Regions from separate parts of the Homo sapiens genome. Here region 2 is linked to region 1. The links come from fine-mapping of genetic effects on gene expression. A gene starts in region 1. The other region holds a variant in brackets. All regions are shown on one strand. Distances are from middle to middle. Region 1 holds the start of PAFAH1B3 (platelet activating factor acetylhydrolase 1b catalytic subunit 3). Region 2 holds the start of MIR8077 (microRNA 8077).

The links. PIP is the estimated chance that this variant, and not a neighbour inherited with it, causes the effect.
Region 2: its variant is the best candidate, but not a certain one, in a credible set for the expression of PAFAH1B3 in whole blood (TOPMed, PIP 0.70).

The regions. Positions count from the first base shown.
Region 1 is chr19:42,299,657-42,305,023 of GRCh38, forward strand. PAFAH1B3 (platelet activating factor acetylhydrolase 1b catalytic subunit 3) reads right to left here and starts at 2,968. Exons shown (of 5, transcript NM_002573.4): 1 at 2,576-2,968; 2 at 2,294-2,383; 3 at 515-631; 4 at 314-436. The coding sequence starts at 2,653. It overlaps PRR19 (proline rich 19), which reads left to right and starts at 2,476. Exons shown (of 3, transcript NM_199285.3): 1 at 2,476-2,847. RefSeq lists enhancers at 2,443-2,492, 2,573-2,702, 2,655-3,309 and a silencer at 2,863-3,082.
Region 2 is chr19:42,346,379-42,351,745 of GRCh38, forward strand. It overlaps MEGF8 (multiple EGF like domains 8), which reads left to right. Exons shown (of 42, transcript NM_001271938.2): 13 at 1,894-2,094; 14 at 3,121-3,321; 15 at 3,770-4,006; 16 at 4,838-4,956; 17 at 5,051-5,182; 18 at 5,270-5,367. MIR8077 (microRNA 8077) reads left to right here and starts at 4,753; the gene lies at 4,753-4,827. RefSeq lists an enhancer at 3,425-3,926. The variant T/C (reference allele first, on the strand shown) is at 3,252.

The DNA.
Region 1 (5,367 bases):
TGACCTCGTGATCCACCTGCCTCGGTCTCCCAAAGTGCTGGGATTACAGGCGTGAGCCACCGTGCCTGGCCCGTTTTTTAGTTTTTCAATACCCCCAAAGTCTTAAGCCATCCCTGGGCAAAAAAGGCTAATTGGTCTCGGAGCATATTCTCAACCACAGCCACTCTGAAGGGTATAGCAAGCTCCAACGTGAGATTCTGCCTAAAAGCCACTGCTCTATGTCAAGCTGCCTAGAACTGTGCCAACTGTGGCTATATCTGAGGGGGTCCCAGACCACTGCCATTCTTCCTTTCCCACTCTCCCAGCCTCTCACCAGCACCACAACCCGGGCCTGGGGCTGTCGCTCATTCACCAGTTGCACAATGGCCTTGATGCCACCAGTCACCTGCTCTGCTGTGTGTCCGTGGTTGTTGGTGCCCACCCAGACCACCACAATCTGTGGAAAAAGAGACATGAAGCAGCGGTGAGGGGGCAGCCAAAAGATGTTTTAGAGCCCCACCCAAGCCCCGCTCACCTTGGGCCGGATGTGTTCCAGCTCCCCATTCTCCAGCCGCCACAGTACATGCTGTGTGCCGTCACCACCAATGCCAAAGTTAAGTGCATGCAGAGGAGAGAAGAGCTCGCGCCAGATCTGTGGGCAAGAAGTGGTGTGGGCAAGAAGTGGTAGGGGCACAAGGGCACTGTCCGCATGGACCATCCCCCTCTGTCCAGGTGTTAACCAAATGCCATTATGGAAGAACCTTACTTCATGGAAGCAGTCTTAAAATTTTACCTGGAGCAAACTCCAGCATGGCTGAACCTCACTTTATAGAAATCTATTAGAGTCTCTCACTTATTTTATTTTATTTTATATTTTTGAGACAGAGTTATTTTATTTTTGAGACAGAGTCTCACTCTGTCACCCAGGCTGGAGTGCACTGGCACTATCTCGGCTCACTGCAACCTCCGCCTCCCTAGTTCAAGTGATTCTCATGTCTCAGCCTCCTGAGTAGCTGGGACTACAGGTGTACGCCACCACGTCCAGCTAATTTTTTGTATTTTTAGTAGAGATGGGGTTTCACCATGTGGGCCAGACTGGTCTCGAACTCCTGACCTCAGGTGATCCACCTGCCTCGGCCTCCCAAAGTGGTGGGATTACAGGCGTGAGCCCATGGTGCCCAGCCTATTTATTTTTTGAGACGGAGTTTTGCTCTTGTTGCCCAGGCTGGAGTGCAGTAGTGCGATCTCGGCTCATTGCAATCTCTGCTTCCCAGGTTCTGGCGATTCTCCTGCCTCAGCCTGCCAAGTAGCTGGGACTATAGGCATGTGCCACCATGCCCAGCTAATTTTTGTATTTTTAGTAGAGACAGGATTTCGCCATGTTGGCCAGGGTGGTCTCGAACTCCTGGCCTCAGGTCATCCGCCTGCCTTGGCCTCCCAAAGTGCTGGGATTACAGGCGTAAGCCACCACACCCTGCCTAGAGTCTCTCACTTTAAACCAAGCCCCAGGCTCTGTTGCTCATGCTGAGGTGGGCGGACTGCTTGAGCCCAGGAGTTCAAGACCAACCTGCGCAACAGGGCAAAACCCCATCTCTACAAAAATTACAAAAATTAGCCAGGTGCATGGTGATGTGCACCTGTAGTCCCAGCTACTCGGAGACTAAGGTGGGAGGATCACTTGAGCCCAGGAGGCAGAGGTTGCAGTGAACAGAGATCATACCACTGCACGCCAGCCTGGGTGACAGAGCAAGACCCTGTCTCAAAAACCAACCAACCAACCAACCAACCAACAAAACAAACCAAGCCCCATAGAAGCAAGACTCACTTCATGAAAATCCAGTCTGCTTGAGCCATGCATTGAATCAATGGCATTACAGTTGAAACTTATTTTGATGAAACCCATTACAGTTGGACATGCTTTGTGGAAAGATATTATTATGATTGAGTCCTCTTTGTGGAGTGCCATTAGAGTTGCCCTTCGCTTCCTGTAAAGTGACTATAGCTTTGTGTAAACCCAACAGGGCTGCGCACTACTTAAAGCAAACAAGAAAGAGCCTCACTTTAGGCAAGCCTATGGCAGGAAAGCCTCATTTTAGGTCTTAGTACATTATACACAAATCCAATCTGATAAAACCAAGGCATACATTTCTTTCTCAATAGAATGTTGCACCTTACACCAAGATTCTCAGAGCCTCGGGCTGCCTGAGGCCAATCTGGGTACTCTCATAATACCTCACCTGGCCTGGGTTCTGGTCCAGATGTGTCAGCATGGACACAGGGCTGGATGGGGCAGGGGGAGAGGGACTGCCCTCACCTCGCACTGGTGCATGAGCTGGACCAAGGAGTCCCCGATGAAGACGACTTCGGGTTCCTTATCTTTGCTGTCAGCCACGAACCGATGGTGCTGCGGGAGCGCGCGAGAGGGAGTCAATGGCATGCACGCTCCAGGGCCCGCCCCGCCCTGCTCCCTTAGGCAGCGCCTCCTCAACTGCCCTCAGTTTCCCAATCAGGTAGTGAGAGTGGCACGAACCAGCCGTTCTCCTGAGCCACCCCCCGCGCCCCCGGACTCCTCAATATCCCAGGTGGGAACGCTCACCAGGGACATCCAGCGCCCGTCGCCCTGTACGTCCTGCACCGGCGTGGGCTTGCTGGCTGGGTTCTCCTCTCCACTCATCTTGGCGCCGCAGCTCCTGCAGGATGAGCGAGTCGGGTCGGCCCGGGAGTGTTCCGAACGGAGCTGGCTCCGCCACGCCCACTCCTACCCCTCGCGGCAACAAAGGACCGTCCCAACGCTAGCACACCCGCGGAGGACGAAGGCCGATACAGGGCGCCGCCTCCTCTCCAGGGACGGAAGCCTTCACTTAGGAGGTAGGTGGAATCAGGAACCTTCGCTTCCCCCACGACGGCCGCACAGTGGGCTCGCCCGGCGCTTCCCGCTCGGGCCGCTGACTCCCAGGCCGCGCACCCGGCACGGGGTGGGGGGAGGGAGAGGCGAGACCATCCAGCTCCCGAGGCGGGGAGGAGGGAGAAACCACCCACCGGTCACGGGGAGGGGCGAACTACCTGAAGAGTCGAGAGTGGGCGGGGAAAATCTAGCCCTCTGTCTAGCAAATGGGAAGAAACCATTTGCTGTACAGAGTGAAATGTGCGGAAGGGACCACCTACTGTTGCGGGGGGGGGGGTGACCCATTCACGTGGTGGGGGGAGGGGAGCGAGTGGACGAGTCCATTCTTATATTCCCTTGAAGGGGTGGCTCGAATGCACCTGGCTGGGGGGGACGCTCCTATTTTCTACTGATGTGGGGGACAGAAAAGGAAGATGACAAAATGTGAAAATTCGAGGCTCCCTTCTAAGGAGCCACTCTAAGGCCGCGCCAGGGCTTTAGTGAGCCTATCTACTCGTGGGCTTCCCCTACTCAAAACACCGTGGGTGTGTGTGTGTGTGTGTGTGTGTGTGTGTGTGTGTGTGTGTTGAAATCTAAAGTACATATCTTTGCATTCAAGACATCACAGGACCCCTACTCAAAACACCGTGTGTGTGTGCGCGCGCGTGGCATAACATATAAACTACATATCTTTGCATTCAAGACACCATAGGACCTGCTTGGAGGGTAGAAGAAGGTGCAGAAAGAGAAAGGAAATTAGAGACGCCTCCAGGGCTCAGGTCCAGTCTGGCGTCCCTCCGGCAGATCATCTTGCAGATCTGCAGCCTCTACACTCTCTCTAAACCCACAGGCCAACTGGGTATGTCTGAGCTCTGAAACCTACATCCATAGCCAAGGCCACCTAGGGTCGCGCCTCTCCCCCAACGCTGCCCCAAATTAATCTCAGACCTCAGTGTCTTCTCAGATCTCCCTCTTCTCTGGGACCAGGTGGGGGGCTCACTCCCTGCTAAACGTCCTGGTCATGTTCTTGTAGCCTCACTCCAGGTGGGACCTTCCCATGTATTCATTCCTTCGAGGTGGATTGATACTGAGACAGAGATGAGTGTTATTCATTGTGTTTATGTTTTCAATCCACTTTCCTGGAACTGGGCCGGGCACACAGTGGTTATTCCACAAGTGCTTGCTGAATGAGTAGTAAATGAGTGGGTCAGCTCCTGACCTTGTCCCAATGTGTTTAGGGAGACAGATCCAGACACAGAGGTGTAGGGGTGTCAAAGTTGTGTTTGAGGGAGAGACAGGGACCTCTGGGGAGGAAGAGGAGAAGGACTCTGAGGACTATGGGTTTCCTAGGAGTAGTATCTCAGCTGGGTCTGAAAGATAATGAAGAATGGGCAAGCAGAAAGAAAAGACACAGGTAATCACTTTCTTATTAGGTTTGGGGAATATCGTGGAATAGCTTGATTTTAAAGTCTGAGGGAGGCCAGCATGGAGGCTCATGCCTGTAATCCCAGCACTTTGGGAGGCTGACATGGTCGGATCACTTGAGGTCAACCAGCCTGGCCAACATGGCGAAACCACGTGTCTACTAAATATACAAAAAAAAAAAAAAAATTAGCTAGGCATGGCAGCACACGCCCGTAGTCCCAGCTACTTGGGAAGGCTGAGGCAGGACAATTGCTTGAGTCTGGGAGGCAGAGGTTGCAGTGAGCTGAGATCGCGCCACTGCAGCCCAGCCTGGGCAACAGTGGCCCAGCTTGGGTGACACAGCGAGACTCTGTCTTAATTACAAAAATAAACAAACAAATAAAGTCTGAGGGAGCCAGGTGCAGTGATGCATGCCTGTAGTCCCAGCTACTGGGGAGGCTGAGGTGCGAGGATCGCTTGAACCCAGAAGTTTGAGACCAGCCTGGGTAACACAGTGAGACCCTGTCTAAAAAAAAAAAAAAAAAAAGGCTGGGCGCGGTGGCTCACGCCTGTAATCCCAGCACTTTGGGAGGCCGAGGTGGGCAGATCACGAGGTCAGGATCGAGACCATCCTGGCTAACACGGTGAAACCCCGTCTCTACTAAAAATACAAAAAATTAGCGGGGCGTGGTGGCAGGCGCCTGTTGTCCCAGCTACTTGGGAGGCTGAGGCAGGAGAATAGCGTGAACCTGGGAGGCAGAGCTTGCAGTGAGCCGAGATGGCACCAGTGCACTTCAGCCTGGGAGACAGAGCGAGACGCCGTCTCAAAAAAAAAAAAAAAAAAAAAAAGGGCAAGTGCCTGTAGTCCCAGTTAGTTGGGAGGCTGAGGCAGGAGGATAGCTTGAGCCTGGGAGATGAGGTGGCAGTGGCCCATGATGGTGTCACTGCACTCCAGGTTGGGTGACAGAGTGAGTCCCTGTCTCCAAAAAAGAAGTCATAATCAGCTAGGCACGGTGGCTCACTCCTATAATCCCAGCACTTTGGGAGGCTGAGGTGGGCAGATCACTTGGCGTCAGGAGTTCAAGACCAGTCTGACCAAC
Region 2 (5,367 bases), 47 kb after region 1:
TAAAACTACAAAAATTAGCCGGGCGTGATGTCGGGTGCCTGTAATCCCAGCACTTTGGGAGGCTAAGGTGGGAGGATCACTTGAGGTCAGGAGTTTGAGATCAGCCTGGCCAACATTACGAAATCCCATCTCTACTAAAAATACAAAAATTAGCTGCTCATGGTGATGCGTGCCTGTAGTCCCAGCTACCTGGGAGGCTGAGGGAGGAGTATCTCTTGAGCCTGGGAGGCAGAGGTTACAGTGACCCAAGATCACGCCACTGCATTGCAGCCTGGGCAACAGAGTGAGACTCCATTTTAATTAAAAATAAATAAATAAATAAAAGGCTGGGCACGGTGGCTCACGCCGGTAATCCCAGCACTTTGTGAGGCCAAGGCAGGCGGATTACAAGGTCAGGAGAGCGAGACCGTCCTGGCTAACACAGTGAAGCCCTGTCTCTAATAAAAATACAAAAAAATTAGCTGGGTGTGGTGGTGAGCACCTGTAGTCCCAGCTACTCAGGAGTCTGAAGCAGGAGAATGGCGTGAACCCGAGAGGTGGAGCTTGCAGTCAGCTGAGATCATGTCACTGCACTCCAGCCTGGGTGACAGAGAGAGACTCTGTCTCAAAAAAAAAAAAAAAAAAAAAGAAAAAGAAAAAGAAAAAAAAGTCACTAAATGGACAGTCTCTCTCATTTACCCCACTCCCTACCCCTTAAGTGGTCCAAAATTATCTAGCTCCAGCATGGCTGCAACTTAAGGCCACCATACCTCCCTGGAAGATCCATTTGGGTTTCTTTGATCTTATTCCAGAATTTACCTATTCAGATGCAAGTAAGCATGACATCATATCATTTTTCTTTCTCACTAAACTAATATACTATGAACATTATACGACTGCTTCCTTTTTTTCTTCCTGGCAAGCTTCCCATAACAGAACTTAAGAAACACTCTCATTCTTTTTTTTTTTTTTTTTTTGAGATGGAGTCTCTCTCTATCGCCCAGGCTGGAGTGCAGTGGCAAGCGATTTCAGCTCACTGCAACCCTGCCTCCCGGGCTTAAGTGATCTTCCCACCTTAGCCTCCCAAGTAGCTGGGATTACAAACATGCACCACCATGCCTGGCTGTTTTTTGTATTTTTTTTGTTTGTTTTGAGACGGAGTTTTGCTCTTGTTGCACAGGCTGGAGTGCAATGGCGCAATCTCGGCTCAGTGCAACCTCTGCCTCCCGGGTTTGAACGATTCTCCTGCCTCAGGCTCCCAAGTAGCTGGGATTACAAGTGCACGCTACCACTCCCGGCTAATTTTTTGTATTTAGTAGAGATGGGGTTTCACCATGTTGGTCAGGCTGGTCTTGAACTCCTGACCTCAAGTGATCTGCCCACCTCGGCCTCCCAAAGTGCCCGCCGTGCCCAGCCTTCATTCTTCTTTTTTTTTTTAAGTTGTATAATATTCCATTTACATTTGTAGTTTATTTAAATAGCCTCCCACTGGTGAACACTTGGACTGTTCCACTCTTCTGCTATTACAAAATCACACACCAGGAAAATAAATCTTGCACTTTGTCTGCCACTTTGAATATTAGATCTGGGCTTTGAAGTGCTTAGCTGGAAAGGTGAGGAGTTGGATAAGAAGACACTGAAGTGTCCAGTCCTGGAGTTTTAATGTGAGATGGAAATGGCTAGAGGCCAGGGGTAAAGGTGGGCTCTGGGACCCTGTCGTCTATTGTCTGAATTTAGGTCTTGCCTCTTTTCCCAGAGTGACCTTTGACAAGCCACCTAACCCCTGTCCCTCTGCCTCAGTCTCTCATTTGGTAAAATGGGGAAGAAGGTTGGGTTGACCAGTCTTTTCTGGCTCTGATGTGGCCTGTGAGTCCAGAAAGGGACTCACACATACACCCATCCCTGGTGGCACAGGTCTCAATTGTCCGCAGCACGACCATCACCCTAACACCCAGCGCAGAGACAGATGTGTCCCTGGTCTACCGTGGCTTCATCTACCCAATGCTGCCTGGAGGGCCAGGTGGACCAGGGGCTGAGGACGTGGCCGTGTGGACGCGGGCCCAGCGCCTACACGTCCTGGCCCGGATGGCCCGTGGCCCTGACACGGAGAACATGGTGAGGCCGCCTGGGACATTCAGGGGGTTGTTTATGGTAAATAGGGAGTTAGGGGTGTGGTATAGAGCATCTGTGGTGATTTGAAGGTTCTGGGGAAGGGCTGGGGAGAAATTAGAGGCAGGAGATGGATTTTTTGTGTGTGTGTAAGACAGAGTCTCACTCTGTTGTCCAGGCTGGAGTGCAGTGGCGCGATCTCGGCTCACTGCTACCTTCACCTCCCAGGTTCAAGCAATTCTTCTGCCTCAGCCTCCCACGTAGCTGGGATTACAGATGTGCATCAGCACTCCTGGCTAATTTTTTTGCATTTTAAGTAAAGATGGGTTTTCACCATGTTGGCCAGGCTGGTTTGGAACTCCTGACCTCAGATGATCCGCCACCTTGGCCTCCCAAAGTGCTGGGATTACAGGCGTAAGCCACTGCGCCTGGCTGGGAATGGATCTTTCGTAGAGGAGGGAGGGTGCTGAGGTTTTCAATTGTGAGCAGAATTTGAGGGAAACTTTGAAGCAGGTGAGGAAGGTCTGAGTCAGACTTGAAAGGCCCCTGAAGGCTGGGCATGGAGGTGTACACCTGTAATCCCAGCCCTTTGGGAGGTAGGGGCAGGTGGATTGCCTGAACCCAGAAGTTTGGGACTAGCCTGGGAAACATGGCGAGACATCATCTCTCCAAAAAATACAAAAATTAGCTGGCCATGGTAGCATGCACCTGTAGTCCCAGCTATTTGGGAGGCTGAGGTGGGAGGATCACTTGAACCTGGGAAGTTGAGGCTGCAGTGAGCCATGATCGCATCACTGCACTTCAGCCTGAGTGATGGAATGAGACCCTGTCTCAAGAAAAAAAAAAAAAAAAAAGCCCCTGAGGAGGAGGGTCCCTGGGGGTCTCACCTCTGAGGTTCTCAGGATCTAAGGAGCTCTGAGGCCCTCTTCTTAGGAGGGGGTGGGGTACAGGGTGGGTTTGGAGGTATCAGGGGTCTGAGGAAGGAATGGGAAGGGTTCTGAGGCCCCTGCCTATCACTCACACCTACCCCAGGAGGAGGTGGGGCGCTGGGTGGCTCATCAGGAGAAGGAGACGCGGCGGCTGCAGCGCCCTGGGTCTGCTCGCCTCTTCCCTCTGCCTGGGCGGGACCACAAGTATGCAGTAGAGATCCAGGGCCAGCTCAA[T/C]GGCTCGGCAGGCCCTGGGCACAGCGAGCTAACTCTGCTGTGGGATCGGACTGGTGTGCCAGGAGGCAGCGTGAGTACCCAGGACCTACCTCCAACCCTAGCCGCAGGCCCCAGCCTCAGATCACCTGGGCTTTCTGAACCCCAGGCCACAAACTCTGAAATCCCTAGATTCTGGCCTCGGACTCCTTAACTCTTGGCCTCTGAACTCTGGACCTCCTCTTGAACCCTGTGGCCCCTGACCTCTGCCTATAGACCCTAACCTGATCCCATATTTTGACCCCCATCTTCTGACTCCTCACCCTTGACCCTGCTGACCCTGACCTCTGCCCTCCATACTTTGACCTATAATAATCTCCAGATTCCTCCAGACCTTGGACCTCTTTACTGATTTCCTAAATCCTGACTTCCTATGTGCCTGAGTTCTCAACCTGGGCTCCAAACCCTTACTTTCAGTTAGCGCCAGACTCTGACCCCTGCCCCAGACCTTGACTGCTGCCTTCCTGTGACCCCTTCCCCAGGAGATCTCCTTCTTCTTCCTGGAGCCCTACCGCTCGTCGTCCTGCACCTCCTATTCTTCCTGCCTGGGCTGCTTGGCAGACCAGGGCTGTGGCTGGTGCCTGACCAGTGCCACCTGCCACCTGCGCCAGGGCGGAGCCCATTGCGGGGATGACGGGGCTGGTGGGTCCCTGCTGGTGCTGGTGCCTACCCTCTGCCCACTCTGCGAGGAGCATCGGGACTGCCACGCCTGCACCCAGGTGCCTGTGGGGCCACCAGGGGAGGTCACAAGGTGGAGGGAGCCACAGCAGGCAATGGGCAGTCAAGGGAACCCCTGGTGGGGGGTGTGGGGGAAACAGCAAGGGCTTTTGGCCTTGATCTGCAGAGCCTGGTGGGGAGGGTGAGATGGAGCTGTAGAGAGAGGCACCTGGGGAGTCAGGACTCTCCCTGTTGTAGGGGCCAGAGAATGCAACTCCATCCTTTTCCACTAGCGGGGAGTTTCTCAGCATAGGCACTGGAGCCCAGGAGTAGGCCTTCAGGCCTGCCACCTCCAAGTGATGTCAGGCAGCCCTCGACACCCTGCTTCCTCTTGTTCCCTGGGAGGGTTTGTTTCCTTGTGAGTGGCAAGGGAGCCGTTAAGGGTCCAGGCTCTAAGTCCCTGCTCTGTCTCAAACAGAGTGAGGCTTCCTATTTCTCTCCCCCCACCCCACCACCATCCAGGAGCTCAACAGAAGTCCCAGAATTGCACTTCTGTGGCTCTGGTTGGGCCTTGTACAGGCTCCTGGGCCAATGACTGGAGTTGTGGGGAGGGAATGTGGCCCCTTGCCCACCTCTGGATCCTGAGGATTGAATAAGCCCCACCCGGACCACACAGAAGGGGTGCTATTGCCTAAAGGAGACAGTGGGTGCTGGGCGGGCCGACCCATGGGTGTCTGTGGTCGAAGGGAGGGGTCCAGAGACGCAGGCAGCTGGGGAGGGAGATGGCCTTACAGGGACAGTCTGCAGGGTGGGGCAGGGGGTGGGATGGGCACTGGGAGTCCAAAGGAAAGGGCTGAGTGGGGTTCTGACTCCTCTGCCCAACTGACCCCCAGGACCCCTTCTGTGAGTGGCATCAGAGCACCAGCCGCAAAGGGGACGCGGCATGCAGCCGGCGGGGCCGGGGTCGGGGTGCCCTGAAGAGTCCAGAGGAGTGTCCCCCGCTCTGCAGCCAGTGAGTCAGGCTGGGTGCAGGGAGTGGGTGGGTGGATGTGCCTGGGGATGTGTGCTGGCTGTGGAGTGACCTGGCCCCCTGCTCCCCACCCCAGGCGACTGACCTGTGAGGACTGCCTGGCCAACTCTAGCCAGTGCGCCTGGTGCCAGTCCACCCACACCTGCTTCCTGTTTGCTGCCTACTTGGCCCGGTACCCACACGGGGGCTGTCGAGGCTGGGACGACAGGTATGGTCCCTGGGGCAGGGCTAACAGAGGAAGATTCCCCACCGGCAAGGGGCTGGGGCTCTGACCCCCACCCCTGCCATCCTGCAGTGTACACTCGGAGCCACGGTGCCGGAGCTGCGATGGCTTCCTGACCTGCCATGAGTGTCTGCAGAGCCACGAGTGTGGCTGGTGTGGCAATGAGGACA